Homo sapiens: one gene and its partners. The protein of the gene in region 6 purifies or fractionates together with the protein of the main gene of each other region. This does not show direct contact. Each region holds a gene or a part of one and is shown on either strand. Other genes may lie near its edges.

Region 1 (4,067 bases), on a different chromosome or scaffold from region 6:
AGGCTGGTCTTGAACTCCTGACCTTGGATGATCCACCCACCTCGGCCTCCCAAAGTGCTGGGATTACAGGCGTGAGCCACCGCACCCAGCCTAAAATTTTACTATAAATTCTTTGCTTTAGATTAGATGGTGTAACAGCATAAAACAAGGCAACTGGAGGGTTCAAATAAAATGAGACATTGGAGCTGTTATGCCTCTTTCACATAAGCCCCATTTTCCCCAGCTGAGGCACAGGCCTTTCAGAGACCACAGCAAGCCATCACAACACGAGAGGTGCTGTGCACCAGAAGCTTCTCTGACTGGAAGGTGAGATAAGGACCCATTAGGGTGATCCGAGGAGCAGATGAAGTGCTTTGGGATATGATGGAAGACTGCAGATATCAATGCATCTTGCTGGAAATAAAACTGGAGCTTTTTTGCTTTGGTTGCTAATAAAATCTTTAAACAGTTGTCTTATGTCTTCTCTTACTATCATTTTTTCCAAGCTTCTGCACTTATTTTCTGGATTTTTGGGAATGGGACAAATAAATAAATGAAGTCCCCAGAATTTCTCAAACTGTCCTTTATTTTACTAGTTCTTCATCCCTATTCTCCCAGATGTATTAGTTTTTTTGTTGTTGACTTTTTTGTAAAGTGTTACAAAGACATACCACAGTGCCTGAGGAGCTTCACCCTTGTCATCCTGAAGTTGGTTTCTTAAGGTTGTTTCAGAATGGAAAATTGGTGTAGATTATGGGGTGAGAGGTGTGTGGCAGAAACGTTTATGTAGCTCCAGTCAAGAAGTGAGAAAGGCCTCAATTCCTGCCTAGGTTCATGTTAAATGATATCTCAGAATTAACGGAAATAATCAAGACCCTTTGGATGAGTTATTAATGAAGAAATGGTGTAAAGAAGTTAATTTATACCCCCAACCATAGGGCAGATGAGTAATATTGACACTGTCAATTAATGTATTTACTTCTTTTTGTGTGTAATATAGGCTGTGGTGTCTAATTTCTGTATTAAAGTATTACAGGTGGGTCGTATGACAAGGGCTCTTCTTTAGTTCCTAATGATTGTGAAATCAGAGCTTTTTAAAGTTGGACAGGACCAAGGAGATTGTCTATGGTGATAAACCTGAATCTCAGAGAGGAGATGACTCACTGCCTCCTGACTTCCTGTGAGCATTCTTTCCACTCTGGTACAAGTGTGTCTCCACAGTTCTGTGACTTGATTCTACTTATGGACACCATAGAAAGTGTTACTTTGGGGGTAGAAAGACCTTTGCTGTATTAATTCACCCATAATTAGTTCCTGAATAAATAAGAGTTGCTGGCAATTATAGTTTCTGATGGGTGTTTACTTTTATTGTCTTCTCTTTTGAAATAAAGTCTTTTTGTTGAATTTTAATTTTCTTTTTCAGTTCAAATCTGAACATCAATGATGTACTAGGGAACTACTCATTGACTCTTGTTGATGCATTGGATACACTTGCAGTAAGTGTTCACCTTTTTTTAAAAAAATGAATTAAGATGTTTTAGAGTTGATTATCCCTAGTTCCCTCCAGCAGTGGGAATTCCAGGGAGCCTGATAAGTCAAAATGTATCATTAGCTTTGATAACTGTTATTTATTTTAATGACCTTAATGGGGAGAACAAGAAAAGTGTTGAAGGTTAAATGAGGGGAAATGTGATTCCATTAAAAAAAGGAGAAGGAATGTACGATTGATTTTAGGGAACCTATTTTTTTTTAACCAGTTTCTATCTTATTCCCTAAAAGAACCCATAATGAAGCTCATTAATATTGATAATTATAGTCGTTGCTATTCCAGGAGTAAAAGAGAGAAGATCTAAGGGTTGGCAGGTACCCTGAAATGTCATCTAGCCACTGGCTCCCCCAGGAGCAAGTTGGAGCCCTAGCGCCCATCCTTATGTGGGGCTCCCTAGAAACCCTTCTCTTTTATTTGCCACTTCCTGTTTTGTGGACACTCCATGCCTGAGCTGCCAACGTGGGTGCTGGCATTACTGCCTCATCCTGTGGTTTTGCTCATTGACTCTGGAGAACTAGAGGCCTTTGAGCAGATATGCAGAAGCACCTTGAAGGCAGTGTGGCACTCAGTACATGGTGCCATGTCTGTGTGCTTCATCTGCTTCACCTTTTGCCATTAAAGCAGTTTCCAGGGGACTGTATTCCAGCATAGTGTTGTTTTAAAATCTTCTTAGTTAAGGTGATTTTTACAACCTCTTTGCTTTCCTTCATTGTCCAGCAAGTCTTTACCATGAGAAATATCTTATTGCAGTCTAGCCCAAATGTTGTACTTTTATTTATTCTTGTTTCTTTTAACATGCCATAGAAGAGTTTAAAGCTGTCTGTTAGGAGATAGAATTGGGGCCGGGCGCAGTGGCTCACGCCTGTAATCCCAGCACTTAGGGCGGTTGAGGTGGGAGGATCAGCTGAGGTCAGGAGTTTGAGACCAGCCTGACCAACATGGTGAAACCCCTTCTCTACTAAAAGTACAAAAATTAGCTGGGCATGGTGGCGGGCGCCTGTGGTCCCAGCTCTTCAAGAGGCTGAGGCAGGAGAAATGCTTGAACCCAGGAGTCAGAGGTTGCAGTCAGCTGAGATTGCGCCACTGCACTGTAGCCTGGGCAACAGAGTGAGACTCCATCTCTGGAGACACACACACACACACACACACAAGAATTGGGTAATGTGCTAGCCAAGTTTGCATTATGATTGTCTAGTATCTTGCTAGTAGTAGAATTACCAGAACTTGGAAAGAGCTTGAGAGATCATTCTACGTCCTCATTTTATAAATAAGTAGTAGAAATAGGACTAGGCCCTTGGTCTAATAGGAAATCTGGGGTACTGATTTAGTATAATTTAAATTACAAAGCAACTTAGTTTCCCAATATCTCCTTCTGAAGTTATTGCTGCTCTGTTTCAGTCATTTACCATCACTGATCAAAATGTGCCCAGACAAGTATGTTCGACCTTAGAGCTAATTTGTTGATGATACCAGAGGCTGACTCAGCCTACAAGTGTTGCTTAAAGGAAACGTCCTAAGACTCAATGTATAGCTCATGAAAGCCTACTCCTTGTCCCTGAGAGCTTTGTCATCGTCGTCGTCTTTTCTTTTCTTTTCTTTTCTTTTTTTTTTTTTTGAGAGAGTCTCGCTCTGCCGCCAGGCTGGAGTGCTGTGGCGTGATCTTGGCTCACTTCAACCTTCAGCTCCTGGGTTCGAGTGATTCGCCTGCCTCAGCCTCCCGAGTAGCTGGCTTTTTTTTTTTTTTTTTTCCCCATTTTGTTTTTTTATCCCTCCATCTTGCCTGCTATTCTGTTGTTCACCATACTCTCCCCCACACTTAATGGTGTCTGGTGCACAGTAGCAGTGCAAATGTTTGTTCAAAAAATGAATTCTGACTAATGAAGCATTTCCCAACACAGATTCCAAAGATACTTACTCCCTGAAAGAAGAGTTCTGTTTCTAAATGAACTTGAGAAATTCCGTATGTCTGGTCCCACTATTAGAGAGCCACAGTGCCCATCAGCATTTTAAAGACTCTGAGAAGTCCTACAGTCAAACAAACAAACCCATTTAGCTCCTCTGTCCCATTCAGCCATTTTCAAACATTAGTGTGATTTCAGAACATAGTCACTCAGGATTCTATAGCTATCTGACCATAATGATAAACTACAATAAGTAAGAGCTGTTGACTTCCTTCACCTTCCTCACTTGATTTGAGCTCCTGTCAGCACCTGCAGCTTCACCAGATATTGTTGCTGGTAAACATCTGTAAGGAAACAGACTCATCTCTGTGGTTTTCATTGTAGAATATCCGGCCTTTAGTGCTTCAGGCTTATTTTTCAGGTGTTACTTCTGTTGAAGTTTTCCTTTTCTTTTGCTAACATTTAAACAGGCTTTAACAGATGTGCTAGGGAAACACTGTGAAGATAGCAGTCCCCTGACCATTGGATGCAACTTGCAGCATTATTGCATCATCTTCTAAAAAGAAAGAACTGAAAGCTAGAAATGTCTGTACTTACTCTGTAGGTTACAGCAAAATAACGATGAGGTGGAAAAAATG
Region 2 (4,241 bases), about 69 Mb from region 6:
TCGCAGATGTGCTGTGAGAAGCAGATGAGGGAGCTGTGTCAGGCACCAGGGGAGGACCTGGGCTCCTGAGGACACCGAGTTCGTGGTGTGTCTGCCCTGCTGCTGTCTTGGTTCTCTGCTCAGCTCTGGAACTTGGTGCAGCTCACTCTCCCTCTGCTCCTCTCCCTGCAGGCTGTGCTGCAGGCGCTGGGGTCCGTGGTGGCAGTGGAGGAGCGCTCGCTCACAGGGACCTGGGATTTGAGCATGCTGCACCGCTGGAGCTGGAGGACGGGGCCTGGCCGCCACAGAGGTTTGGGGACCCCCGCTTCAGCTCCCTACCCAGGACTCCCAGCCAGGCTCAGCAGCTGGTCAGACCCGGTGCACATCCAACCATCTGCCTGTCCCGGCCTGTGCGACCTTGCGAGGCTGCTTTCCTACTCTGAACCCGCAGCCCTCCCAAATCTACTACAGTCGGTTAAGAAAGGCTTTGGGTTAGTCTCTGCCTGCCAGGGCTCCACACAGGCGTGTGTGTGCACTTGTACGTGTGCACACGCAGACCACACGCCCTGCCTGTGCCCTGGGTGACAGCTAGGGGCCCAGGGGCTTCTGCCCACCTTGGCCCTGCTGACCTCAGCCCATCAGCCGGTCCCTGCCTCATACGACATGTGCCACCGTGAGCTCCTGCACTACAGGCAGCTTCCAGGCTCCACTCCCTGTCCGCACCATGCCCTCTGCCTGGGACGCACAGGTCCCATTCACTCTGGCCAGCACCTGCTCAAGCTCCCCAGGATGCCTCCCCAGAGTCACCAACCAGGCCAAGTGCCTCCTCCACTCTCCTGGCCCCAGGGGTTTCTTCTGTCCTGTGCAGCTCGTTGTCCACTACACACAGCATGGTGGCGGGTGCATGGTGCACGCTCAGTTGGTGGTGGGAGGAAGGAAGGGACGGAGGGAGGGAGGGAGGGAAGATGATGTTGGTTGGAAAGAAGGAAGGAAGATGGATGAGTGATAGATAAGTGGACGGCTCCCTCCCAAGATCGAAGCCCAACCCCAGGGCATGCCTTCAGGGGAGCCTGGTGAGGCAAGGGCAGACTCACCAGATGGTCTCAGAAAGCTCTTGGGCTTTGAGGGCAACACCCATGAGGAATTGAGGCCACTAGGGCCAGGACCAACCTATGAATTGCCCTCAGGGTGGGCAGAAACGCCAAGAGGCCCACAGGAGTCCTGGCAGAAGGGGATGCCATAGGCCGTTGCCACGGTGGGAGCCACAGCAGACTGTAGCCAGGTGCAGTGTGGTGAGAAGGAGGCTGGGAGCCACAGCAGATTGTAGACAGGTGCAGGAGGGTGAGAGGGAGGCTGGGAGCCACAGCAGACTGTAGACAGGTGCAGGGGGTGAGAGGGAGGCTGGGAGGAGGCATCCCAGGCCACACTGGACAGATCACCTCTGTTCCCCTAGGTGACACCACCTCTCCCTCGAGGCCACCAGGAGGCCCCATCATCACCGTCCACCCAAAGGAAATCCGGACGTTCTTTATTCACTTTCAACAGCAGTGAGCCCTGGGCAGATGCCCCGGCCCCAGGGCTTCCCCCAGGAACTCCATGTAACAGAACAGACCCAGGACAGGGAAAAGCAGTGCGGAGGGATGGGACTGGGGAGTCAGCTGCTCATCTGCAGGCTAATGGCAGGAAATGGTCATATTTGGGGTTTTTCCCTAATTTTTTTAAACAAAAATTACATTACAAGATCCAGGTTCTTCCCCCCCACACTCAATCAAGCCAGCCCTCTCCTCTTCTGTCACGTAAAGGATATTTGGCACACTCATGCGTCATTCATTCACAAAACACAAACCCAGGACTTTCTGCCTAAGGCAGAGCACAAGACTCACAGCAGCACCGAAGCGCATCTGCCGTCCGGGCCCTGCCAGGCTTGCCAGGCTGCCAGTGGTAACTGTGGACCTACTGCGTGCCACGTGTTTTCATAGACTCATCCCATGCTGGCAACAGCCCTGCAAGGGGCTTGGCTCTGCCACAGGGCAGGAGAGGAAGTTGTAGCGCCTAGCGAGAGTTCCAGCCCCAGACGCCCACCTGTGCCTCAGGGCACCGCCTGCCGAGCAGAGAAGGCACAGCAGCCGTCAGAGTCCATGAGAGGTGAAACCACACAGCAGGGATGTCCAATATCAGAACTATTAATATCAATAAAAGTATAACCTTCCCAGGTCTATGCCCAAGAGAATTGAAAACATCCATCCACACAATACCTGTGCTCCCGCGTTCATAGCAGCATTACTCAAAAGTCAAACGGTAGCAACAACCCAAATGTCCATCCACAGATGAATTAAGACATGAAGTGTGTTCTGTCCATACAATGGAATATTATTTGGCCATAAAAAGGAAGGAAATTCTGACGCATGCCACAGCCTGAGTGAATCCTACAAATATTACGCTAAGTGAAAGAAGCCAATCACGAGTTTATGTGAAATGTCCAGAATAGGCAAATCTGTGTATCAGAGACAAAGCACATTGGTGGTTGCCAGGTACTGGAGGAAGAGAGAAGAGGCATGACAGCTAACAGGGACGGGCTTTCTTTGGAAGATGATGAAATTGTGGAATGATGGTTGCACAACTTTGTGAATATACTAGAAACCAATGAATTAAAAACTTTGGAAGATGAATTTTATGGTCTGTGAATTATATCTCAATTTTAAAACTTTTTTTTTTTTTTCCCGAGACAGAGTCTCACTCTGTCGCCCAGGCTGGAGTGCAGTGTCAAGATCTCAGCTCACTGCGACCTGCACCTCCTGGGTTCAAGCAATTCTCCAGCCTCTGCCTCCCGAGTAGCTGCTACTAGAGATGCACCACTGCGTCAGCTAATTTTTGTATTTTTAGTAGAGACGGGGATTCACCATGTTGGCCAGGCTGATCTGGAACTCCTGACCTCAGGTGATCTGCCTGCCCCGGCCTCCCAAAGTGCCAGGATTACAGGCGTGAGCCAATGTGCCCGGCCTAAACCGTTTTAAAGAGTAAACTGTAAGATGTAGGAAATTATTTGGTACTCTAGGGCTGAAGGAAAGTACCCAGAAAGGACCAGCTTGGAAGGAGTCAGACCTCTGGACAACGTGCAGTTTGGCCACCAGACAGCAAAGACAGTCTCTGGTTTGGCCAGGCAGGAGCTGGGCTGGAGTTGCTGACCAAGCAATAGGCCACCCCTGTGAGGTGGGGTCAGGTGAGCAGCCACCAGAGGCATGGATGTGCAGTGGGAGGTTGAGGCACAAGGAGTGAGGCAGGAGCCCTTTAGAGCATGTGGGCTGCATGAGGCTTGGTTTCTGTGTCAAGAAGACTATGGAGGCTGGGCAGTGGTTCATGCCTTAATCCCAGCACTTTGGGAGGCCAAAGCAACCGGATCACTGGTGGTCAGTAGTTCAAGACCAGGCTGGCCAACATGGTGAAACCCCATCTCTACTAAAAATACAAAGTTAACCGGGTGTGGTGGTGTGCGCCTGTAGTCCCAGCTACTCGGGAGGCTGAGGCAGGAGAATCAATCACTTGAACCTGGGAGGCGGAGGAGACCTCCGCCTCTGCACTCCAGCCTGGGTGACAAGAGTGAGACTCCGTCTCAAAAAAAAAAAAAAAAGGAAGACTACGGAGGCCAGGCGTGGTGGTTCATGCCTGAAATTCCAACACGCTGGGAGCCCTAGGCAGAAGGATCGCTTGAGCCCAGGTGTTCCAGACCAGCCTCGGCAATATAGTGAGACCCCATCTCTACAAAAACTATTCTTTAGACGAGCGTGGTGGTGTGCACCAGTGGTCCCAGCTACTCTGGGGGCTGAGGTGGGAGGCTCACTTGAGCCCAGGAGGTCGAGGCTTCAGTGAGCCATGATCATGCCACTAACTCCAACCGGGGTAATAGAGCAAGACCCTGTCTCAGAAAAAAATAAAGAAGACTATGGAAATGTTATCCCCAGCGCAGCCAGGCTGTAGAAAAATCATGTGCACTGAAAGTACCATCACCCATGCTGACCATCCCCGTCCAGAACAGAAACAGCAAGAGAGCCACTTCCCCCTGCGGTCCCTCCAGCACCCAGCACCCTCAACTGGGAAGAGTGAGAAGAATATAGATGACAGGGGAAAACCCACCCACAATAGACAGAATATTGGCTAAAATCTAACATCCATTTGTTGCTTTGTTGTTATTTCATTTCATTTTACTTTTTTAGACACAGGGTCTCGCTCTGTCACCCAGGTGGGAGTGCAGTGGCACTATCATA
Region 3 (4,663 bases), on a different chromosome or scaffold from region 6:
TTCACGCCATTCTCCTGCCTTAGCCTCCCGAGTAGCTGGGAGTACAGGCGCTCGCCAACACGCCCGGCTAATTTTTTGTATTTTTAGTAGAGATGGAGTTTCACCGTGTTAGCCAGGAGGGTCTTGATCTCCTGACCTCGTATCCGCCCGTCTTGGCCTCCCAAAGTGCTGGGATTACAGGCGTGAGCCACCGCGCCCAGCACCTGGCTAACTTTTGTATTTTTAGTACAGACGGGGTTTCACTGTATGTTGGCCAGGCTGGTCTCAAACCCCTGACTTGAGGTGATCTGCAAGCCTCAGCCTCCCAGAGTGCTGGGATTACAGGCGTAAGCCACCGCTCCTGGCCTAAGGTTGGCTATTTTTATGGTTATTTCTTGATTATATGATAAACAAGGGGTGGGTTAGTAATGAATTTTTCAGAAAAGGGGTGGGGATCCCCCCCAACTGAAGGTTCCTCCACTGTTTAGACCATATAGGGTAACTTCTGGACGTTGCCATGGCATTTGTAAACTGCCTGGCGCTGCTAGGAGTGTCTTTAGCATACTAATGCATTATAATTAGCGTATAATGAGCAGTGAGGACGATCAGAGGTCACCTTCCTGTCTTGGTTTTGGCAGGTTTTGACCAGTTTCTTTGCTGCATTCTGTTTTATCAGCGGGGTCTTGTGACCTTTTATCTTGTGCTGACCTCCTGTCTCATCCTGTGACGAAGGCCTAACCTCCTGGGAATTCAGCCCAGCAGGTCTCTGCCTCATTTTACCCAGCCCCTGTTCAAGATGGAGTCGCTCTGGTTGGAAACTTCTGACAAAATGACAGCTCCTGTTATGTTGCTGCTGCTGCCGCCAATGGACAGCCTTTAACGTGCCCGCCAGCCCTGCTCCACCGCCGGCCTGGGCTCACATGGCCCCATCCCTCCTCGAACCTCCTAGCCTGTTAGTTACTCAAATCTGCAAGCTCTCTGCCTTCTCAGGGCCTTCAATAAATGCATTTCTTCTGTCTGGAAGGCTCTTCCTTTCCCTCTTCTAGCCAATTCCTATTCATCCCTGAGTTTCAGATTAAAAGTCACTTCCTTTGGAAACCTTACTTCGCTACTTCGCTACTTACTGCACTACTTCGCAGCATCACAACTATGATGGAAATCCTTACTTACGTTAAATATCTGGTTTCTAGGTCACCTCCCTGACGGGGACGGTAGGGACCGTCTTCTCGTTCATCAGTAGGGAAGTAGCTATGGCAGTGCCTGATACAAAATAAACTCCAAATGTGTATTTATTAGATGGTTGGATGGAAGTTATTTGCGTGTGAAAGCGCGTTTTACCCGAAGGCGCTCTGTGAGGGCCAGCGGGTCCCCTTCGGCCCTGGAGCCGGGGTCACACGCTCCCCACCGCGTGCGGTCACGAGACGCCCCCAAGGGAGTATCCTGGTACCCGGAAGCCGCGACTCCTGGCCCTGAGCCCGGGCTTAGCCTTCGGGTCCACGTGGCCGGAGGCCGGCAGCTGATTGGACGCGGGCCGCCCCACCCCCTGGCCGTCGCGGGACCCGCAGGACTGAGACCATGGAGGCGGTGGCGGTGGCCGCGGCGGTGGGGGTCCTTCTCCTGGCCGGGGCCGGGGGCGCGGCAGGCGACGAGGCCCGGGAGGCGGCGGCCGTGCGGGCGCTCGTGGCCCGGCTGCTGGGGCCAGGCCCCGCGGCCGACTTCTCCGTGTCGGTGGAGCGCGCTCTGGCTGCCAAGCCGGGCTTGGACACCTACAGCCTGGGCGGCGGCGGCGCGGCGCGCGTGCGGGTGCGCGGCTCCACGGGCGTGGCGGCCGCCGCGGGGCTGCACCGCTACCTGCGCGACTTCTGTGGCTGCCACGTGGCCTGGTCCGGCTCTCAGCTGCGCCTGCCGCGGCCACTGCCAGCCGTGCCGGGGGAGCTGACCGAGGCCACGCCCAACAGGTACCGCCCCGAAGCTTCCCCGCGTCCGCCCGAGGCGCTTACCCCCTCCCGGAGCCGCTGCCACCCAAATCGGGAGGCTGAGCGGGGAGCGCTGGCCGGAAGGCCCAGCTGCGCCGCCTCCAGCAGCTGTGTGGCCTTGAGCCAGCCACTCTGCCTTTCAGAGCCTCGGCTGGCCCACCTGAAAAACGGAAAGAAGACGCCTACCGTGCAGTGTTATTGTGAGGATTTGCACGATGATGGGCATAGAATTTGTGGTGCACAATTGGTGATGAGTGAATTTTCTTGCCTTCCTCCCCCACCTTCTCTTTGAACCTGCGGACTGAGGAAGGACGCCTCCATCCCCCACCCTACAGGCCTGTGTTCCAGCGCCTGCCACACTATGGAGTGATGTGTTCACACAGCTGTCCTCCCCTGCCCATCTGTTAGACTGTGGGGGCAGGGATTCCCCGTTCCAGGAAAACACCGTGCAGAGGAGGGGCTCTGGCAGTGTGGCATGAAAGTGGAATATGCCACCCAAATACCCGCCAGGCTAGAGGGCCCTGGGAGAGTGCAGGGGACGAGTGCCTCAGAAGCCCAGCCCCGGTACCTGGTCTCAGCTCCACCTGGGGTGGGTCCCAGTGTGCAGCAGAAGGGCCGAGTTTGGAGCCCCTCCCCTCTCCTCTAGGTGGGGGATGGGGGATTTGTTCCAGGGCCGTGGACCCTCCAGGGTGGGATGCGCCCCTGCTCATGACACTGCCCGCAGGTACCGCTATTACCAGAATGTGTGCACGCAAAGCTACTCTTTCGTGTGGTGGGACTGGGCCCGCTGGGAGCGAGAGATAGACTGGATGGCGCTGAATGGCATCAACCTGGCACTGGCCTGGAGCGGCCAGGAGGCCATCTGGCAGCGGGTGCGTGCCCACTGTCCCTTCCCCACCCTCCTCTATGGCGGGAGCCACCGTAGGTGTTTTCACCCGCCCCCCAGCATGGGCGCAGTGTCTCTCTCTAGAAGTGCTTTCAGCGTGCACAGTGGCTTGGGCCTCCTAAAAACTGAGGCTTCCGGCCGGGCGCGGTGGCTCACGCCTGTCATCCCAGCACTTCGGGAGGCCTAGGCGGGCGGATCAGGAGTTCAGGAGATCGAGACCATCCTGGCCAACATTGTGAAACCCCGTCTCTACTAAAATACAAAGAAATAGCAACCTGGGCAACAGAGCGAGACTCTGTCTAAAAAAAAAAAAAAAAAAAACTGAGGCTTCCAGTTTGAGGAGTGGGGCTCCTTCCCCCATCTCCCCTATGCAGCCAATCACCTGGTCCCTTGGATCCAACTCATGGGCAGCTCTAGATCTGCCTCCCTGGAAGCTTCTGTGCTGCAATGGCTGCTCCAGGCTCTGCTTAAGCTCTTCACACAGTTGCCCTGCCCTTCCATCTGGCACTCTTGCTCCATGAAGCCTTCTAAGGCCTTCCTGTTGGGGGAAAGCCCCTTTGTGCCCCATCTCCTCACCCATGCGACAAAGGCAACACAGTGAACTCACCTACTCACAGGTCTCTTTCCTCTGGGCTGTGGGCTCCTTGATGGCAGCGTTCGGATTTTGTCTCAGTAGCCCTAGCACCCAGCACAAAGAAGCAATGAGTGAATGGTTGTTGAATGAATGAATGAATGAATGAAGATGAATATATTTCTATGTGTGGGCCCTTCTTCCTCAGGTGTACCTGGCCTTGGGCCTGACCCAGGCAGAGATCAATGAGTTCTTTACTGGTCCTGCCTTCCTGGCCTGGGGGCGAATGGGCAACCTGCACACCTGGGATGGCCCCCTGCCCCCCTCCTGGCACATCAAGCAGCTTTACCTGCAGGTAAAAGGATGGAAAAGGGAAGGGGCAGAATCGGTGATAGATGGTCATGGGCCCAGGAAGGGTGGTATTAGGCCGGCCCCAGGGCTCTTAACTGAGGCGGGGGGCTGCGTGTATCCTGGGAGATGAGGGCCTTCTCATAGGACAGCAGTGGCCATGCTCACCACCCTTCCTTCTGTTCCTCCAGCACCGGGTCCTGGACCAGATGCGCTCCTTCGGCATGACCCCAGTGCTGCCTGCATTCGCGGGGCATGTTCCCGAGGCTGTCACCAGGTGAGGTTCCGCTCACCCCCTCCACTTAGCTCAGAGAGGGAATTTTATTCCCTTCTAGAACATGACTTAAAAACTTAAGCTCTGGGCCGGGCGCAGTGGCTCACGCCTGTAATCCCAGCACTTTGGGAGGCCGAGTTGGGCGGATCACCTGAGGTCAGGAGTTCGAGACCAGCCTGGCCAACATGGTGAAACCCTGTCTCTACTAAAAATATAAAAATTAGCTGGGCATGGTGGCACGCGCCTGTAATCCCATCTACTTAGGAGGCTGAGACAGGAGAATTGCTTAAACCTGGGAGGCAGACGTTGCAGTGAGTCAAGATCACGCCATTGCACTCCAGCCTGGGTGACGAGCGAAACTCTGTCTCAAACAAACAAACAAGCTCTGGACGTAGGCCTGGGTTTGATTTCTGACTCTGCTACTAATTAGCTGTGTGACTTCGGGCAGATGACATGACTGCTCTGTGCCTCAGTTTCCTTACTTGTAAAATGGGATCTCTACCCACTTCGCTGTAGGGTTTGTAATTATCTCTCGATCTATCTGTGACTTTGCACAGAGTGCTAGCAAATGGCAGCCCTTGGGAGTGGCAGCAGGGGTGCTCCAGTGTCCCTTGTCCCTCCTGTTCCTC
Region 4 (4,067 bases), on a different chromosome or scaffold from region 6:
ACAGTAATGGAATTACCTCTCCATATGCCCCACCCACCCAATCATTGAAGTTAGAATAAATATTTCTCAGTTAATAAATATTAGAATTATTATCCTGGTGTGCTGGCATGCTCCTGTAGTCTTAGCTACTCGGGAGGCTGAGGTAGGAGGATCCTTTGAGCCCAAGAGTTCAAGACCAGCCTGGGCTACATAGTGAGACCCTGTCTCTAAGAGAAATAAAATAAAATTCTGGGACTAAGAATTAGATGAACAGGTAAAACCAGGTCTAGAGGAGGGCAGTGGTGGTGGGGGTGGCTCAGAGTTAGGAGTGCTAATGACACGCAGAGTAGGAGCTATATGGTGAAAGCAACTCTGGTTGGCGACAGGTGCGTGCATAAGAAATGCTGAGAAGAAGACAGCTTTTTTTGTTTTTTTTTTTTCCCCTGTGGGCAATCTCTGAAAATTGATTAGGTTTTCCTCATTCTCCTCTCTACACCAGGGGTCCCCAACCCCCTGCCATGGTACTGGTCTATTAGGAACCAGGCTGCATGGCAGGAGGTGAGCAGTGGGGAAGCGAGCATTACCGCCTGAGCTCTGCCTTCTGTCAGATCAGCCTTGGCATTAGATTCTCATAGGAGCACAAACTGTATTGTGAACTGTGTATGCAAGGGATCAAGGTTGCGTGCTCCTTATGAGAATCTAACTAATGCCTGATGATCTGAGGTGGAACAGTTTCATCCAAAACCATCTCCCCCACACTACCCATCCATGGAAAAATTGTCTCCCATGAAACTGGTCCCTGGTGCCAAAGAGGTTGGGGACCGCTGCTCTATACTTTAAGAGAAGAGGGTGATGTCCAGGAAGCAGTGGAGACCTTCGACCAGATGGGGTACACTAGAGGAAAAACAAGGCTTTGGGAGGCCATGACTAGTTAGAGACATTAGGCCTAGAAAAGCTTGTGAAATTTTTTTCACTCGTTTTATTTTATGTTTACCATTGAACATTTATTTTCTCAGATATGTTCCAAATCTACAAGCTGTCATTTCCTTCTGAGCCCTGTATACACTCTACCCGGCACCCAGCTCCTGACCCTATCTAGTGCTGTCTGGAGAAAATATCCCCTATTTTTCCTCACCCTGCCATTCCCAGAACAACCTGTAGTCCTAGCCCTGGTAAAGTGGCTGATAGAAACCACTTAGGAACATATTAATGTGTCCTTGAAAACTCAAAGTGGAAAGAGAATGGAGAGGAATCATAAAAGGAAAGAAGGGGAGGGGAGAATAAGCATAAAAGGTCATATTTGTGGCAGCAGGCATATAGTATCAAATGTATTTTGTTCTTTTTTCCCCAGGTATCTGTTTAATTTTCGAGGCGTAGCTGCAAGTTTCCGGTTTAAACACCTCTTCCTGTGTGGCTCACTTGTTTTCCATGTTGGTGATGAGTGGCTAGAATTCTTCTATCCACAGCTGAAGCCATGGGTTCACTATATCCCAGTCAAAACAGATCTCTCCAATGTCCAGTAAGCAGTTATCCCCCAATGCAGAGTTTCTAAAGACCCTTCCAATCTGCTTTTAAAAATGCCTTAATGCCTTAAAACCAGTCATGTAAGACATTTAGTCCTACGATTTTTTTCCATTGAAAGCTTTTTTTCCTCTTGGTTTGCATATATAGTATTGCATTATTATCCAAGTAGGCTATAAGTGGAATTTAATTTGAAAAAGCGCTTTAATACTGGTTTCAAATGAAACGTTCAGACAAAATGAAGTTAAAAAGCTCTAATCTCTCCAAGACTAAAGATAGGGATATTCAATCTTATTATATTGTCAAAAGGATTTTCAGATACAGCATGAGAATTGACTCAAGTGAAGCTTCAGCAAATTTCCTTTCATGACAGGAGGAGCTAGGAAGAAGTATAGAGAAGGGCCAGAGTTATCTGAATATTGTTATCATGGTGATATCTGTGTATATATATTTTTTTTCTATATATAAATATATTTATATATAAATATGTAAAATAATATAAATATCTAATATAATATATAATATAAATATACAAAATATATGTAAATATATAAGGTAACTTCTGTATTTTCTCAAATATGTCCCAAATCTACAATAGGGTATCTTTAATCAGTGTGTGGGGGTTTTTTTTTGTTATTATTTTGTTCTTGAGAGAACCCTGATATCTTTGCTTGAAGGAAATAATCCACCATCCACATACCTAAAATTATCCATAGACCTCAATCTATATCGTCTTTCTGACTTAGTGCCAATGAAGTTGGTCTATATTTCACAGTCTAAAATTCTTTTCATTTTAGAGAGCTGTTACAATTTGTAAAAGCAAATGATGATGTAGCTCAAGAGATTGCTGAAAGGTGAGTTCTGTTCATTTTCCCTTTTCCACTTTACTTTTTGTCATCCCCATTATGCCCTAGCCAAAGTTATCTGAATATTGTTATCATGGTGACATCTGTATTTTATCCTCATTATATGGAGATAATTCAGAACTAAACCTGTCCTGGGGGAAAACATACACACATGTCTACATATGCTTGTTTTAAAGGAAAAAGATGGGCCGGGCGTGGTGGCTAACGCCTGTAATCCCAGCACTCTGGAAGGCCGAGGTGGGCGGATCACCTGAGGTCAGAAGTTCAAGACCAGCCTAGCCATGGTGAAACCCCATCTCTACTAGAAATACAAAAAAATTAGCCGGGTGTGGTGGTGCGTGCCTGTAATCCCAGCTACTCGGGAGGCTGAGGCAGGAGAATCACTTGAACCCGGGAGGCGGAGGTTGCAGTGAGCCAAGATCGCACCATTGCGCTCCAGCATGAGCAACAAGAGCGAAACTCCGTCTCAAAAAATAAATAAATAAATAAATAAATAAAGGAAAAAGATTGTTAAGTTGTATTGCTACATGCATGTATGTGGATATGATTGCCATAGGGTTGGTTCTTGAGGCTCAAATGAATTAATTTATATAAAATGCTGAATAATGCTTGGCACAAGGTGAGCACTCAAATGCAGACTGCTATTATCATTAAATTCTGTGCTTTAACATTTTCTTGTTAAATCTTGTCTCTAGGGGAAGCCAGTTTATTAGGAACCATTTGCAGATGGATGACATCACCTGTTACTGGGAGAACCTCTTGAGTGAATACTCTAAATTCCTGTCTTATAATGTAACGAGAAGGAAAGGTTATGATCAAATTATTCCCAAAATGTTGAAAACTGAACTATAGTAGTCATCATAGGACCATAGTCCTCTTTGTGGCAACAGATCTCAGATATCCTACGGTGAGAAGCTTACCATAAGCTTGGCACCTATACCTTGAATATCTGCTATCAAGCCAAATACCTGGTTTTCCTTATCATGCTGCACCCAGAGCAACTCTTGAGAAAGATTTAAAATGTGTCTAATACACTGATATGAAGCAGTTCAACTTTTTGGATGAATAAGGACCAGAAATCGTGAGATGTGGATTTTGAACCCAACTCTACCTTTCATTTTCTTAAGACCAATCACAGCTTGTGCCTCAGATCATCCACCTGTGTGAGTCCATCACTGTGAAATTGACTGTGTCCATGTGATGATGCCCTTTGTCCCATTATTTGGAGCAGAAAATTCGTCATTTGGAAGTAGTACAACTCATTGCTGGAATTGTGAAATTATTCAAGGCGTGATCTCTGTCACTTTATTTTAATGTAGGAAACCCTATGGGGTTTATGAAAAATACTTGGGGATCATTCTCTGAATGGTCTAAGGAAGCGGTAGCCATGCCATGCAATGATGTAGGAGTTCTCTTTTGTAAAACCATAAACTGTGTTACTCAGGAGGTTTCTATAATGCCACATAGAAAGAGGCCAATTGCATGAGTAATTATTGCAATTGGATTTCAGGTTCCCTTTTTGTGCCTTCATGCCCTACTTCTTAATGCCTCTCTAAAGCCAAAAAAAAAAAAAAAGACAAAGCCTCTTAATAAATTTAATGGAACTATACATAGAACAGCAGCTCTTCCTCACCCTTTGCATACCTTTAATATTTTTCCTTCTTAAATTGGCCACAGCAGGGGTCATTCACACTCTCACTG
Region 5 (4,067 bases), on a different chromosome or scaffold from region 6:
AATCATGACATAATACTGTATTAAATTTAAGATAATGCCTGTCAATGGAAGGAAAAAATTGTTTGGGCATGTGTAGCATGGGAGTTGACTGTTCTCAGAGAAATGTAAACATAGTAGATATGTCATAGATATGAATTAAATGAAGATCTTTTGGATGGATGAATGAATAAAAGTGGAGTGAAAATTTATCAACCTGACTGATGAGTAAGATAATTGATTAGAAATGATGAGCCAAACTGATTTTTAACTTTCAAAATTTTGGCCAATCTACAAGGTATTTACTGGGATGAAAGGAAAAAAGGCAAGATTCCTAGTCAGTCAATGAGTTAAAACATTAATAGTGATAGTAATGCCTTGAGTATTTGCCGAAGAGTTGACTGAAGTTATTTCTCATGTAACATTCTAAAGAATACAGATATCTTTTATTCCTCATGTAAAGAAACTGCCTCTCTATTCAGAATAAATTCAGTGGTAGCTTGAAGCTATAAAATAGGGATTGAGGCTACAGTCTAGAAATAAAACACTAAAAACAATACATTGGTAATAAAGATAATTTAGGATTCTTAGGTTTGTGGGCTATGCACTATTTTGTATGAAGAAGTTTCAAGAGTGTGTGTAAATATATATAAGCCATCTTCTGTAGAAGAGTGTGTGTGTGTGTGTGTGTGTGTGTGTGTGTGTGTGAATCTTCTGTATAAAATAGCTTCAGTTGTCCTGTTTCAAATGTGGGTGACTCTAATGTTTCAAAAATGCTTAGCTCAGTACTGACACATAATACATTCAAAAAATAGTGGTTCTTCTTTATTGTTTACTTAAATCTATTATCTGTATGTTATCTGTAACAAGCAGGCTGAGGTTAATAGGGACAATTGATAAACTGAACCAAAAGTTTAAAAATTAAAAGGTAATACATTAAAAGGTAGAAGTTGAAATGAAACACAATGAGAAATTTTTGTTGGCTGAAGAAAAAAATGTTATAATGATTAAAGATCGATCTGTGATTGCCATGTCAGTAAGGTATCTTCTTTCCTTTGGAATAGCTTTACTTGCTATCAAGAACCTGAAGGTGTAGGGTCTTCAAATGGTGCCCATCTCCCACACAATTAAAAATATCCACATGGACTAGTCTTTGAGTCTCTGTAGAATTTCAGATCAGTGGTTGATTCAGATAGACTCCTCCCCTCAAAAGAGAAGGTCCATATCTCGCCTACCCTACCCTCTGTGGACAAGGTGTCCCATATGGTATATTCATGCCATAAGCAGAAGTGAGCCTGCCTGTTTATCTAGAATGCCCAGGGTGAGAGACGTTAGGCATGAGATACCCCTTTTAGTCAAGCAAGTTGACTGCAGAGCCAGCACCAAGAGAGTTGCCTGGATAGTACCGCAAGGTGCTTTTCTTCCTGCATATATATTGTTGGCCTCCTTTTACCTCCCTGACTCCCCAAGAGACATCTCTTCTCTCACTTCTTTTGTACCAGAGGAAAGTGGTCTCTCTGCCAGGAGGGTCTGGGCCCAGACTTGCTCGTGAAGACTATATCTGAGGAGACCCAGGTGATTTCTACATGTCCACTTTCCACCCGGGCACTCTGCATCATCAGGCTTGTTTAAAGGAAACTTTAATCACAGCTGGTTCCTAAATTAAGGTGTCACAAATAATGACTCAATTAATATAGTTAAGCATAGTCCATCCATGGACTATCAATATTCAAATAGAACATAATAAAACATAGAAATGATTATCAAATTACACTAAAAAGATGGTCTTTATTTGGTTATTCAAATATGTTTCCAGATCTTTCATTACTTTGGAGTTACCACTGAAAGCATTATACACACACTAACTCTCATTTGGGTAATAGTCTAAAGTTATACAATTACACTATCCAGTATAGTATCCACTAACCACAGGTGGCTTTGAACACATAAAATGTGGCTAGTCAGCGATGAGAGGGCTGTAATGTAAATTACATACTGGCTTTTGAATACTTAGTATAAGAAAACTCATTAATTTTTATGATATATATTGAAACAAACACTTTAAAATTATTGATTACATAATATTTTGGATTTATTAGGCGAAATAAAATTTTAGGTTAAATAAAATTAATTTTATTTTTACTTTTTTCATGTGGCTATTATAAAATTTAAAATTTCCAATGGGCTTGTATTATATTTCTATTGGACAGCACTGCTGTAGAGAAACATTAAGTTCTCTGTGTAAAAATAACGCTATCTCTTTAGGAGATGCTTTCCTGATATTTATGCATAAATGAGTAGAACTTTCACTTTCTTTTCTAGACTAAGTGTTCTATAGTTACTGGGCCTTCAAGCTGCCTGCCTGTCCCTCTCTTACAGGAAAGACCCATCTCAAGTTAGTCACCATTACCCATATTTAGATTTCTTTCTGGAAATTTTATTACCTTAGCCAGCCTCCTGGTTCATATTATATAACCTATTTGAAAGAATTTAATTAGCATTGCATTATTAAACTAATGATTACCTAATCCTCACTTCTACTTGATTCATAGGAGTTATTAGCTTAACATTAAATAGCAAATATCTCACTGTTGAAACTTCAAATATGTTTTTCTTGATAACTTTTTACTTTTTCATTTGCAATGTGCTTTAAATTGTAGCTTATGAAGCTGAGATTGCAGATTGGTCATTTTGAAAAATCATCCCTGAATGAAGGCTGTTATACAATTATGTAGAAAATCAAGACAGAGAGCTTCACTAATAAACTATCAGGTTACCAGAAAGAAGTTTCCTTATTTCCAGCAGTTTCCCAAACTTTATGTCCCAAAAGGATGAGGTTTCCACCTAATTTGAGAGATGAGGCTTTCTAAATGCACTTTAGTTTTTGCCTTAAGTTTACTTGGTCACTGAGTGATATACCCAATGACTTGAAAATATATCCCCTTGGCAACAGTTCTAGGGTCAGATGCTGAAATCCGTTGCACATGTGGGTAATTTATCCATTCAGTTGTTCATTGAGGGATGCCTAAGGGCCTGAACCTGGGCATACAAAAGAAACATACTCCTTGTCCCAAAGGCTTTAAAGTTTATAAGATAGGTTATTATAGGAAAGTATGGTGAGATTTAATCTAGGTAAGACAATAAAGTGATGCATTCCTGAAGAATTGGTGTTCAAGTGGGGGAACTGAAAAATAATCAGAAGTTAGCCAGAGGAAGAGGCTATGGAAAAGTTTGCCAGAAAGAGCAAACTGTGTGTATAAAGACCCTGAAGTCTTTGAGAGCACGATGCTTTTGAAGAACTAAAAATTGTGTACAGTTGCACTATGGAGTGTGAGCTAAACTGTAGGTTAGAGAGGCAGGCAGGAATTACTTCTGATACAACTCTAAGTATGAATTTACCCTAGGATATTTAAAACTGGGGAGTGACATGATCAGATTTGTGTGTTTGACAGATTCTCTGGTTGCAGGTTAGTGAATGCTTTGGAGTAACTGGGTCAAGACTGAAGGCAATGAGGCAGTTGTAGGAAGATTTTGTTATAATTTAGACTACAGATGACAAGTGTCTGTACAAGGACACTGGCAATAGCAGTGGAGAAGAACATGGAGATTCTGAAGGTATTTAGGAGATAGCACTTGGTAATTATTGAATGAAAGAGATGAGTGAGAATGTTCCAAAGATGTTACTGAAGTTTCTAATTTGGGCTGTGACATGGATGATGATCCAATATACTGAAAAAGGGAAGAGCAGCAGGTTTTCTGGCAAAATGATGAGTTTCGTTGGCTTGAGATTCCTGTGAGACATAGAAGTAAAAATCTAGTGATCAGTTCTATGATCAGTTCCATGTATGGGTGTGGTAGACAGTAGAGAGGTCTGTACTAGCAAATCAGAGGTGAGTAATTGACGTAACCCCATTCACCTCCAAGGCTTTGATTACCATCTCTCTGGGGTAAATAGATCAAATGGCCAATGGCAAATTTCTAAGGATTCCTACAGTTCGAGAAGTGATTAGAATAGTGCTGCTCAAGTCTGGCTGTAACTTAAATTCTCATGCAGAGCTTTTAACAGTTCTGGTGGCCCATCTCAAACTACT
Region 6 (4,067 bases):
TAGCATTAACAAAGGAAATGCTTTCTTCTCATGTTGGAAGTAAGCCTTCTTGAATTAGAATAATACTAGCTACCCTTTATTGAGCCTACTGGGTGCCAGGCACTTCATGAACACAGTCCCGTGGGGAAGATGGTATCATCTGTTTTGTGATGTGGAAACCAAGCCTCAGTGGGGCCACCTTGCTGGAAGTCAGGTGGCTGGTGAGTGCTAAAAGCATGGGAATCTCCAGTTCGCTGCAGTGCCTTTCAAAGCAGAGCCTGTTTCCTCATTTGTCTCCCATGCTTGTGCACTGCTGCATCACACTACAACATTTGGGCCTGAGATGGAAGTATTGTTATCTTGCCAATTTTGAAAAATCGCCTCTGAGAGAGATCCCACAAACTTTGCTTTAGTACTTCCCATGTCTTACCAGTCCCCTCCCTGACCTGAACTCTTTGAAGTTAAGCTCAGAAACCTTGGAGGGTGGCCGGCCACAGTGGCTCACGCCTGCATTGCCAGCATTTTGGGAGGCTGAGGTGGATGGATCTCTTGAGCCCAGGAGTTCGAGACCAGCCTGGGCAACATGGTAAAACCTTGTCTCTACAAAAAATACCACAAAATTAGCCGGATGTGGAGGCTTGCGCCTGTGGTCCCAGATACTCAGGAGGCTGAAGTGGGAGGATCGCTTCAGCCCGGGAAGTCACGGCTGCAGTGAGCCGACATTGCACCACTGCACTCCAGCCTGGGTGACAGAGACTCAAAATAAATAAATAAATAAATAAATAACAGAAACCTTGGAGGGAATTAAAACTGACCAAGTTTCCGTCTTTATTTTATTTTATTTATTTATGTTTGAGACGGAGTCTCACTCTGTTACTCAGGCTGGAGTGTAGTGGCACGATCTTGGCTCATCGCAACCTCCGCCTCCCTGGTTCAAGCGATTTTCCTGCCTCAGCCCCCCAGATAGCTGGGACAACAGGTGTGCGCCACCATGCCCGGCTAATTTTTGTATTTTTAGTAGAGATGAGGTTTCACTATGTTGGCCAGGCTGGTCTCAAACTCCTGACCTCATGATTCACCCACCTTGGCCTCCCAAAGTGCTGGGATTACAGGCATGAGCCACTGTGCCCTTGCCCAGCCCAAGTTTCCATCTTAAAACAAACAAACAAAAAGTAACACTTTTTTCCCCAATTATAAAAGTAACATGTAATCGTTGTAGAAAATCAGTAAATGTAGAAAAGTAAAAAAACAAAGCTAACCACCATCCTGTTATTAAAAAATGACCAGAAAAACCCTTCAGGATATTTTCTCTCAGTTTTGTTCATGTGGATATACATATTTTTCCCTCTGGTATTGGACATACTGTATATAAATATTTTTTCATGTACAGTTAAATATTCTCAGAGAATATGGATAGATACTTAACAAGCCTCCTCCTCTTTTTCTCACAATACTTCTGTTCATAGAGATTCCCCCTTTTTTAAAATTATGATCTCTGTGCAAGGAGCTGGAGAGAGAAAGGAAAAGTGCCAAGTCCCTTAAGAGCCAGCCATTTTCCCAAGGGGACAAAATGAAACATTTGTGAAACAATGGTTTAGTGTTACTTTATTTGCTCTGAGGAATTCATATATGGAGAGGTGAGCTTGAGCTGGCTTTGAATCATGTGTTAAATAGAATACATGCTGCCATGCAGAGGAAAAAGCAGAGTTCAGAGGTGTCCTGAGCCCAGGATGGGTTAGTTTCACTTCAGATTTAGACTGAGGATGAAATTCTCACTTACTATGCTTATGATGCCCTCCATGTGTGCTAAGGGTAAAGATCCTAGAAACACTGAATGAACACAGATGAGTTGTATCCAGTTGTGTTTTTCATCTTGAATTGTTAATCTATATTCTTATACAAGCATTATAGCACATATATCAGTTATAAGGAAGAAAAACTTTTACTTTGAGGATTTGTTTTACAAATGAAAAACTCCTTTTCCTTTTTTTTCTTATTTGTCTTATTCATTCATGTTGGACTTTTCCCTTTTCTCAGGTTCTGCACCAGTATTGTGGCTCAAGACTCCAGAGGCCACATTTACCATGGTCGGAATTTGGATTATCCTTTTGGGAATGTCTTACGCAAGCTGACAGTGGATGTGCAATTCTTAAAGAATGGGCAGGTATAATCCGTACCATATAAGATAAAAAATCAGAAAGATTTGCAAACTCAAGTTAGCAGTCATTTGGATGGCCTGCTAACTTAAGTGTGTTATCAGTGTAAGACACAAAAAAATCACACCCCTGGAAAAACAAAGCCAGAAGAGAGGTTTGCATCAATTATGCTTATAGGAAGGACGGTCATTTATTATTTATTATTCAGTGTCTACTTAAAGAGGTCACCCAGTTTTCCATAGGGAAATCTCTTTTAGAGAGTGATCAATCATCCACTTATGCAGAGTCAGCTCTTTCCTCTGCTTTCCCATGCCCAGGCTGCTTCTGGAATATGGAGGGGCTGGGTAGTGCAATAACTAGAAACACCCAACTTTGGGATCTGACAGTCCCAGGTTTAAATCTTGATTCTATCAATTACTGTACTTCCTTTGTGAACCTGAGAAATTACTCATTCCCTAATTTTGCAGACTACAGCTCATGGAGGCTCATAACTACTTTACTGCGATAGTTATAAATGTTAAATGAAGTAGTCTATGTAAAGTTGTAGCCAAATAATAAATGGTCCTTCATTCTGCAAGTGTGATTGACCCACACCACTTTCTTGTGTATGATCTTTAAAAAATTATACTTAGATCTTTTGTTTATAGCATGGTCCCTTTAAAACTATAATCTAGTGTGTGCTGTTGTCAACTGTGTAAACTTTTAGAGAGACAGAATTAATCAATGTTCATTGAGTACGCAAAGCATGTTTTGCTGTAAAACAGAATACAGAGTGCAAAAGCCAGATTTTGGCTGTAAGGACAAGGACTATATTCCCTTTGTTCTTTGCATTTAGGGGTTGATTCACAAATACTAAAAACTCATTTACTAACTACTCAGTCATCTGCTTTTACAAACACTTTTTTTCATAAAAAATTCAAACAGTACAGAAATATTTAAAGTAAAAGTTTCTCCTTTCCAGTCCCATTTCTTTACTTTGCCACTATTAACAATTTGATTTCTAGCTGAATTACTTTAAAAATGATTTTAAGTGGTAACGATAATATAAATGCATAATAAATTCTCAAAGGAAATCTGCTAAATATTAAGTTATTACTGAATGAAGGATAATATTATTTATTATTTATTCATGTTTTTTCTCCATTGTTCTATAATGAGCTAATACTCTTAATAAAGAGACAAAGGAATAAATGCAATGAAAATAAATTATTTCAGCTGCTCTGAAACTCACTCTAATAGTTGTTGCTTCATTTGTTTTTGTTTTTCCTGGAGTTCCCATGAAATAATCTATAGAGAAATAGTCTGTAGAGGTAGTTTTACTCTCAGTACTCAGGTGACTGTTACTGAATATAGACAGTTTACACTTGGGTATTGCTTTTCTATGGAGGACTCATGGCCAAGAAATTGTTTTATGAAATTAAGAACAGGTTATCCACAAAATAATTCATCTCTCATTCTTGTCTAGTGTTTGTAATCTTAAAAGTATTTTTGGCTGGGCGCGGTGGCTCACGCCTGTAATCCCAACACTTTGGGAGGCCGAGGCAGGCGAATCACGAGGTCAGGAGTTCAAGACCAGCCTGGCCAATGTGGTGAAACCCCGTCTCTACTAAAACTACAAAAAAAAAAAAAAAAAATTAGCTGGGCGTGTGGGTGGGTGTCTGTAATCCCAGCTACTTGGGAGGCTGAGGCAGGGGAATCGCTTGAACCTGGGAGGCGGAGGTTGCAGTGAGCTGAGATCGCACCACTGCACTCTAGCCCAGTGACAGAGTGAGACTCCATCTCAACAACAACAACAAAAGTATTATCATACACAGGACCTCATTCGATCCCCCCAGCAGCCCTGTGAAGCAGGCATAAGTCAACATTTTAATCTTTACTTTCTAGATGAGGGGGCCCAGCTTCACAGAGACTGACTTGCCCCGAATCACAAGG
Region 7 (4,067 bases), on a different chromosome or scaffold from region 6:
GAATGATTGTGATTTAAGTGACAAGCGCTATCCAGTGTAGCATGTTCAGTACAAGTGGAAAAACAGGTTTGAACCTTAGCAGAATGGGCAAAGTGAAATGTCAGGCTTAATTTATCTCTGAAGGGGATAATCTGCTTGGGTCCCACAGGGGAAAAAAATAAAAATAAGTTGTAAATAAATAAATAAAAATAAAATACAAGACATAAAATTGAATTAAATTTAAAAGAGGATACTCTGGGTGGTTGGAAAGGTAGGCTTCCTTCAGACAGAAAAATCGTGGAATGCTCAGAAAAGGCAGGATAGAGCAAGGCATGTGGCTAAACAGTTTACATATATAAAATTGAGAAGACATGAGAATTAAAGAGAGTTAACTATTTCAATAATATGGGTTGACCTAATGCGAGGCTACTTACTAGCAAGCCATTTGTCCCATGCACAGTGATGCACCTTGAGAAGCTGTGATGAATAGACAGGCCGTCCACAAATGTTGCATGTCTGTATCCTCCTTTATAATCCACGTCACCACACAGGTGAAAATGAACAGGGTATCGCCCCATCTGCTGCTGACCCATGTGTTTCAATTCCACATAAGAAAGATGGACTGAAGTAAAATTTTTCATTATCTGTAAGTCAAGGTACTAAAATCAAACTCATACTTTTCAGAATAGGGAAGTAGCAAAAAATATTGTTCTAGTAGAAAACATCCAAAGGAGAATACTTATTAAAACATTCGATTTTCTTTTGCATCCTGTTTTCCCAGATTGCCAGTTAATAATTTAGGAAATGCTTCTTTACAAAAGCAAATACTTTAAAGAGCCACAAAAATAGCCTCCAATTAGGAATAAAGGCAAATGTAATCAGGAAAGCTGCAATAATGATCTCTGCTAAGTGTTTTGATTTGTTCAAATATTTTGGTCATTCCCAGTCTCGTCTTGTTCTTTCACTTCTATAACCTCCATCAGAGTCTGATAAATAGTTATTTATTTCTAGATCCTCCCCAGTGTTTTAGTTAGCACATAATATTGTTGGCTTAAGTTACTTTTAAAAGTTCTTCTGTGATCCAAAGTTTGAGCACTCTCAATATATTTAAACACTAGATTTTCAATCGTATTACTAACAACAAGGGAATAGTACTGATCGACATTTCAGAAATCCTTGTAACAGGCGGGGTACAGTGGCTCACACCTAGCACTTTGGGAGGCCAAGGTGGGCAAATTGCTTGAGCCCAGGAGTTCAATACCAGCCTGGGCAACATGGCAAAACCTTGTCTCAAAAAAACAAATGCAAAAATTAGCCAGGCACTGTGGTGTACACCTGTAGTCCCAGCTATTTGGCGGGGCTGAGGTGGGAGGATCACTTGATCCCAGGATATTGAGCCCACAGTCAGTTGTGATCATGCCACTGTACTCCATCCTGGGTGACAGAATGAGACTGTATCTCAAAAAAAAAAAAAAAATTCCTTGTAACAGAAATACTACTTACAACCACAGCCTACTCAATGCACAAAAAGTGATTTAAAAACACATGTAGCCAAAATGCAGCCCAGAAGTCCAACAGATTAGTATATATTAATAGAATACTGCCTAGCATATAGTAAGTGCTCAAAATTTTTCCAGAACAAAAATTTGCATACAAAAAATATTTTTATAGGAACATATTTTGCATGTGCTTGCTAGTATTGCTAACCCTTTGGTAATACTATGCTTTTTAAAAAAACTAATTGATTCTTTCAGAAATCGCATGCATGGATACCAACCAAGAGCCTTCAGTTTTTTTTTGTTTTGTTTTGTTTTTTGGTCTCTGTAATTGGTTCTTCCCAATATATTGATTTGACTCTTCATGGAACAATTCTTAAATGGTTTAACTAGAGGTCCAGGTCAACTAACTGAAGTCATAACATTCTATTTTAATCATCTAAAACCTCCTCATTGTCATTTGAGAAACAAAACATGATTTGCTTTTAATATCCATTTATATCTTGTTCCAAAACTTGACAGTTTCTTCAAACATATATTTAGCAACCAGGATTTCAAAGAAATAATCAAATCCTTTTGCCTACCATAATGTGTCCCCCAAAGGTATCATAATCAAAAAATTGGCACTGATTTTCTGCGTAGCATGAGTCCTCCACTTCTCCTTGGATCACAATATTCCGGGTAAGAATTCCAACCTCAGCTCTCATGTCTACACCGTCTATGATCTCACCCATGTGCAGGAACTGAGGGGTTTCTGGTTGATATGAGCAAGGAAAAAAAAGAATATTAGAACAAAGAAAACATGAAACTCACTTCAAAAAGACATTCTCTTCATTCCATAACCCCAAGATGATCCTGACAACTTATCATCTGCTCCCATTCTCTGACACTTCAGAATCAGAATCCCAGGACACGGGGAATTTTTTTTTTTTTTTTTTTTTTTTTTTTTTTTTTTTGTGAGACGGAGTCTCACTCTGTCCCCCAGGCTGGAGTGCAGCGGCATGATCTTGGCTTACTGCAAGCTCCGCCTCCCGGGTTCATGCCATTCTCCTGCCTCAGCCTCCCAACACAGGGAATTTAAAGATCATCTAGTCCAGCCCCCACCCACTGCCTGAACCCTCACTACTAACTGTTCTGCCAATTCTCAAACCCACACACTGACAGAAAGCTTGTTCCTTCCTGAAGCAGCTCAATCCTCCCTTCAACAGCACTAATAATCTGGAATCTAATGATCTATAATCTTTCTCTCCAGTTTCTGTCCATACGCTCTTGGTCTCCTCCCCTAGGGCATATGAAGAACCAAATGCATAGTGAGTCCATAAAACAAATGGTGTGTAGATATTAATATCAGGGTGTCAACTTGTTTATGCTTTTACCTGAAAGCTGAAGTAATCTGCAACTGGACATTAACAATAGATAAATTACCATCTTTTCTTTCTCATTTCTTATTTTATGTTATTATGCATTCTTTTAAATTCCCACATTTACTGGAAGTGTAGAAGCACTTTAATAATGAGCTTTTCACTGATGATCTTATTACATAAACTCAGGAAGGAAAAATACACATAAATCTTGGGAGGACAGTTCATGAAGACTCATCATGCAGACTTGTTAACAAGAGTTGGAATTTCCAAAAAAAATTAATGCCAGATGGTATCATAGTTTTGGGGTTTTTTTGTTGGGGCAGTGTTCTTGTTTTGTTTATGCCCTGTATTATCAAGAAGGAAAAGTACAATGTTGACGGAAGCACAGGGAAAAAAGGCCAGGTGAGCCAATCACTATTTTTTTCTAAAGCAGAAAATTTTTCCTTAAATGTTGAAGCTCTACCTATTACTCTAAATTACTGAAAAACTAAAGAAGCACTTACTGAACAGTTACTGTAAACTCTTTTGTTTTATACCATAAATGTATAATGTTGAGTTCAAAAGAAAAGCAATAGAATGAGTGAAATGCACAATGAATCCCATAAATGAAGCAATGTACAAAGGGGCTGTGCCTAGTACCAGGCTCAAAATGAGTGCCCGGTAAGTGTCAGGCATTCTTTCAATATGCAACTTACAGTAAGAATTTCTTTGTGTAGTCTTTTTTTTTTTTTGAGACGCAGTCTCGCTCTGTCGCCCAGGCTGCAGTGCAGTGACATGATCTCAGCTCACTGCGACCTTCGCCTCCTGGGTTCAAGCGATTCTCCTGCCTCAGCCTCCCTAGCAGCTGGGATTACAAGCCTTGTGCCACCATGCCTGGCTAATGTTTTTTGTATATTTAGTAGAGATGGGGTTTCACCGTATGGGCCGGGCCGGTCTCAAATGCCTAACCACAAGAGATCCACCTGCCTCAGCCTCCCAAAGTGCTGGGATTATAGGCGGGAGCCACTGCTCCCAGCAAGGAAATGTAGTCTTAAGAAAATACCTATCTGATTCCATTTTAAATATCAATGAGTTTTTGTTTTTGTTTTTGTTTTTGGTAATCAAATAGGCACTCGAAAACCATAGGATTTCTTTTAATTAAGAAATACTTCTATTAATAAATGGATCTAATTCATCATTGGGTTTACTATTATCTGATAGTAGAAAATTAATACAAAAGAAAATGGAG

What was found.
Region 1: the proteins of NAAA (region 6) and EDEM1 purify together in Homo sapiens (affinity purification with mass spectrometry; 3 studies listed by BioGRID and IntAct, with this or other methods). This does not show direct contact.
Region 2: the proteins of NAAA (region 6) and MAN2B2 purify together in Homo sapiens (affinity purification with mass spectrometry; 3 studies listed by BioGRID and IntAct, with this or other methods). This does not show direct contact.
Region 3: the proteins of NAAA (region 6) and NAGLU purify together in Homo sapiens (affinity purification with mass spectrometry; 3 studies listed by BioGRID and IntAct, with this or other methods). This does not show direct contact.
Region 4: the proteins of NAAA (region 6) and POGLUT1 purify together in Homo sapiens (affinity purification with mass spectrometry; 3 studies listed by BioGRID and IntAct, with this or other methods). This does not show direct contact.
Region 5: the proteins of NAAA (region 6) and ITGA4 purify together in Homo sapiens (affinity purification with mass spectrometry; 3 studies listed by BioGRID and IntAct, with this or other methods). This does not show direct contact.
Region 7: the proteins of NAAA (region 6) and CEMIP2 purify together in Homo sapiens (affinity purification with mass spectrometry; 3 studies listed by BioGRID and IntAct, with this or other methods). This does not show direct contact.

What each region holds. Positions count from the first base shown.
Region 1 is NC_000003.12:5,193,807-5,197,873, forward strand, and holds part of EDEM1 (ER degradation-enhancing alpha-mannosidase-like protein 1), read left to right. Parts: exon of another isoform or gene 1-1,159; intron 1,160-1,402; coding exon 1,403-1,475; intron 1,476-4,067. UniProt on the Homo sapiens protein: Extracts misfolded glycoproteins, but not glycoproteins undergoing productive folding, from the calnexin cycle.
Region 2 is NC_000004.12:6,619,756-6,623,996, forward strand, and holds the end of MAN2B2 (epididymis-specific alpha-mannosidase isoform 1 precursor), read left to right. Parts: intron 1-171; coding exon 172-289; intron 290-1,432; coding exon 1,433-1,530; 3' UTR 1,531-3,607; downstream 3,608-4,241.
Region 3 is NC_000017.11:42,534,719-42,539,381, forward strand, and holds the start of NAGLU (alpha-N-acetylglucosaminidase precursor), read left to right. Parts: upstream 1-1,522; 5' UTR 1,523-1,554; coding exon 1,555-1,937; intron 1,938-2,098; coding exon of another isoform or gene 2,099-2,155; intron 2,156-2,679; coding exon 2,680-2,827; intron 2,828-3,620; coding exon 3,621-3,767; intron 3,768-3,951; coding exon 3,952-4,037; intron 4,038-4,663. UniProt on the Homo sapiens protein: Involved in the degradation of heparan sulfate.
Region 4 is NC_000003.12:119,489,221-119,493,287, forward strand, and holds part of POGLUT1 (protein O-glucosyltransferase 1 precursor), read left to right. Parts: intron 1-1,330; coding exon 1,331-1,498; intron 1,499-2,297; coding exon 2,298-2,354; intron 2,355-3,061; coding exon 3,062-3,218; 3' UTR 3,219-4,067. UniProt on the Homo sapiens protein: Dual specificity glycosyltransferase that catalyzes the transfer of glucose and xylose from UDP-glucose and UDP-xylose, respectively, to a serine residue found in the consensus sequence of C-X-S-X-P-C.
Region 5 is NC_000002.12:181,459,920-181,463,986, forward strand, and holds part of ITGA4 (integrin alpha-4 isoform 1 preproprotein), read left to right. Parts: intron 1-4,067. UniProt on the Homo sapiens protein: Integrins alpha-4/beta-1 (VLA-4) and alpha-4/beta-7 are receptors for fibronectin. They recognize one or more domains within the alternatively spliced CS-1 and CS-5 regions of fibronectin. They are also receptors for VCAM1.
Region 6 is NC_000004.12:75,934,185-75,938,251, reverse strand, and holds part of NAAA (N-acylethanolamine-hydrolyzing acid amidase isoform 1 precursor), read left to right. Parts: intron 1-2,016; coding exon 2,017-2,143; intron 2,144-4,067.
Region 7 is NC_000009.12:71,730,292-71,734,358, forward strand, and holds part of CEMIP2 (cell surface hyaluronidase CEMIP2), read right to left. Parts: intron 2,230-4,067; coding exon 2,060-2,229; intron 624-2,059; coding exon 414-623; intron 1-413. UniProt on the Homo sapiens protein: Cell surface hyaluronidase that mediates the initial cleavage of extracellular high-molecular-weight hyaluronan into intermediate-size hyaluronan of approximately 10-5 kDa fragments.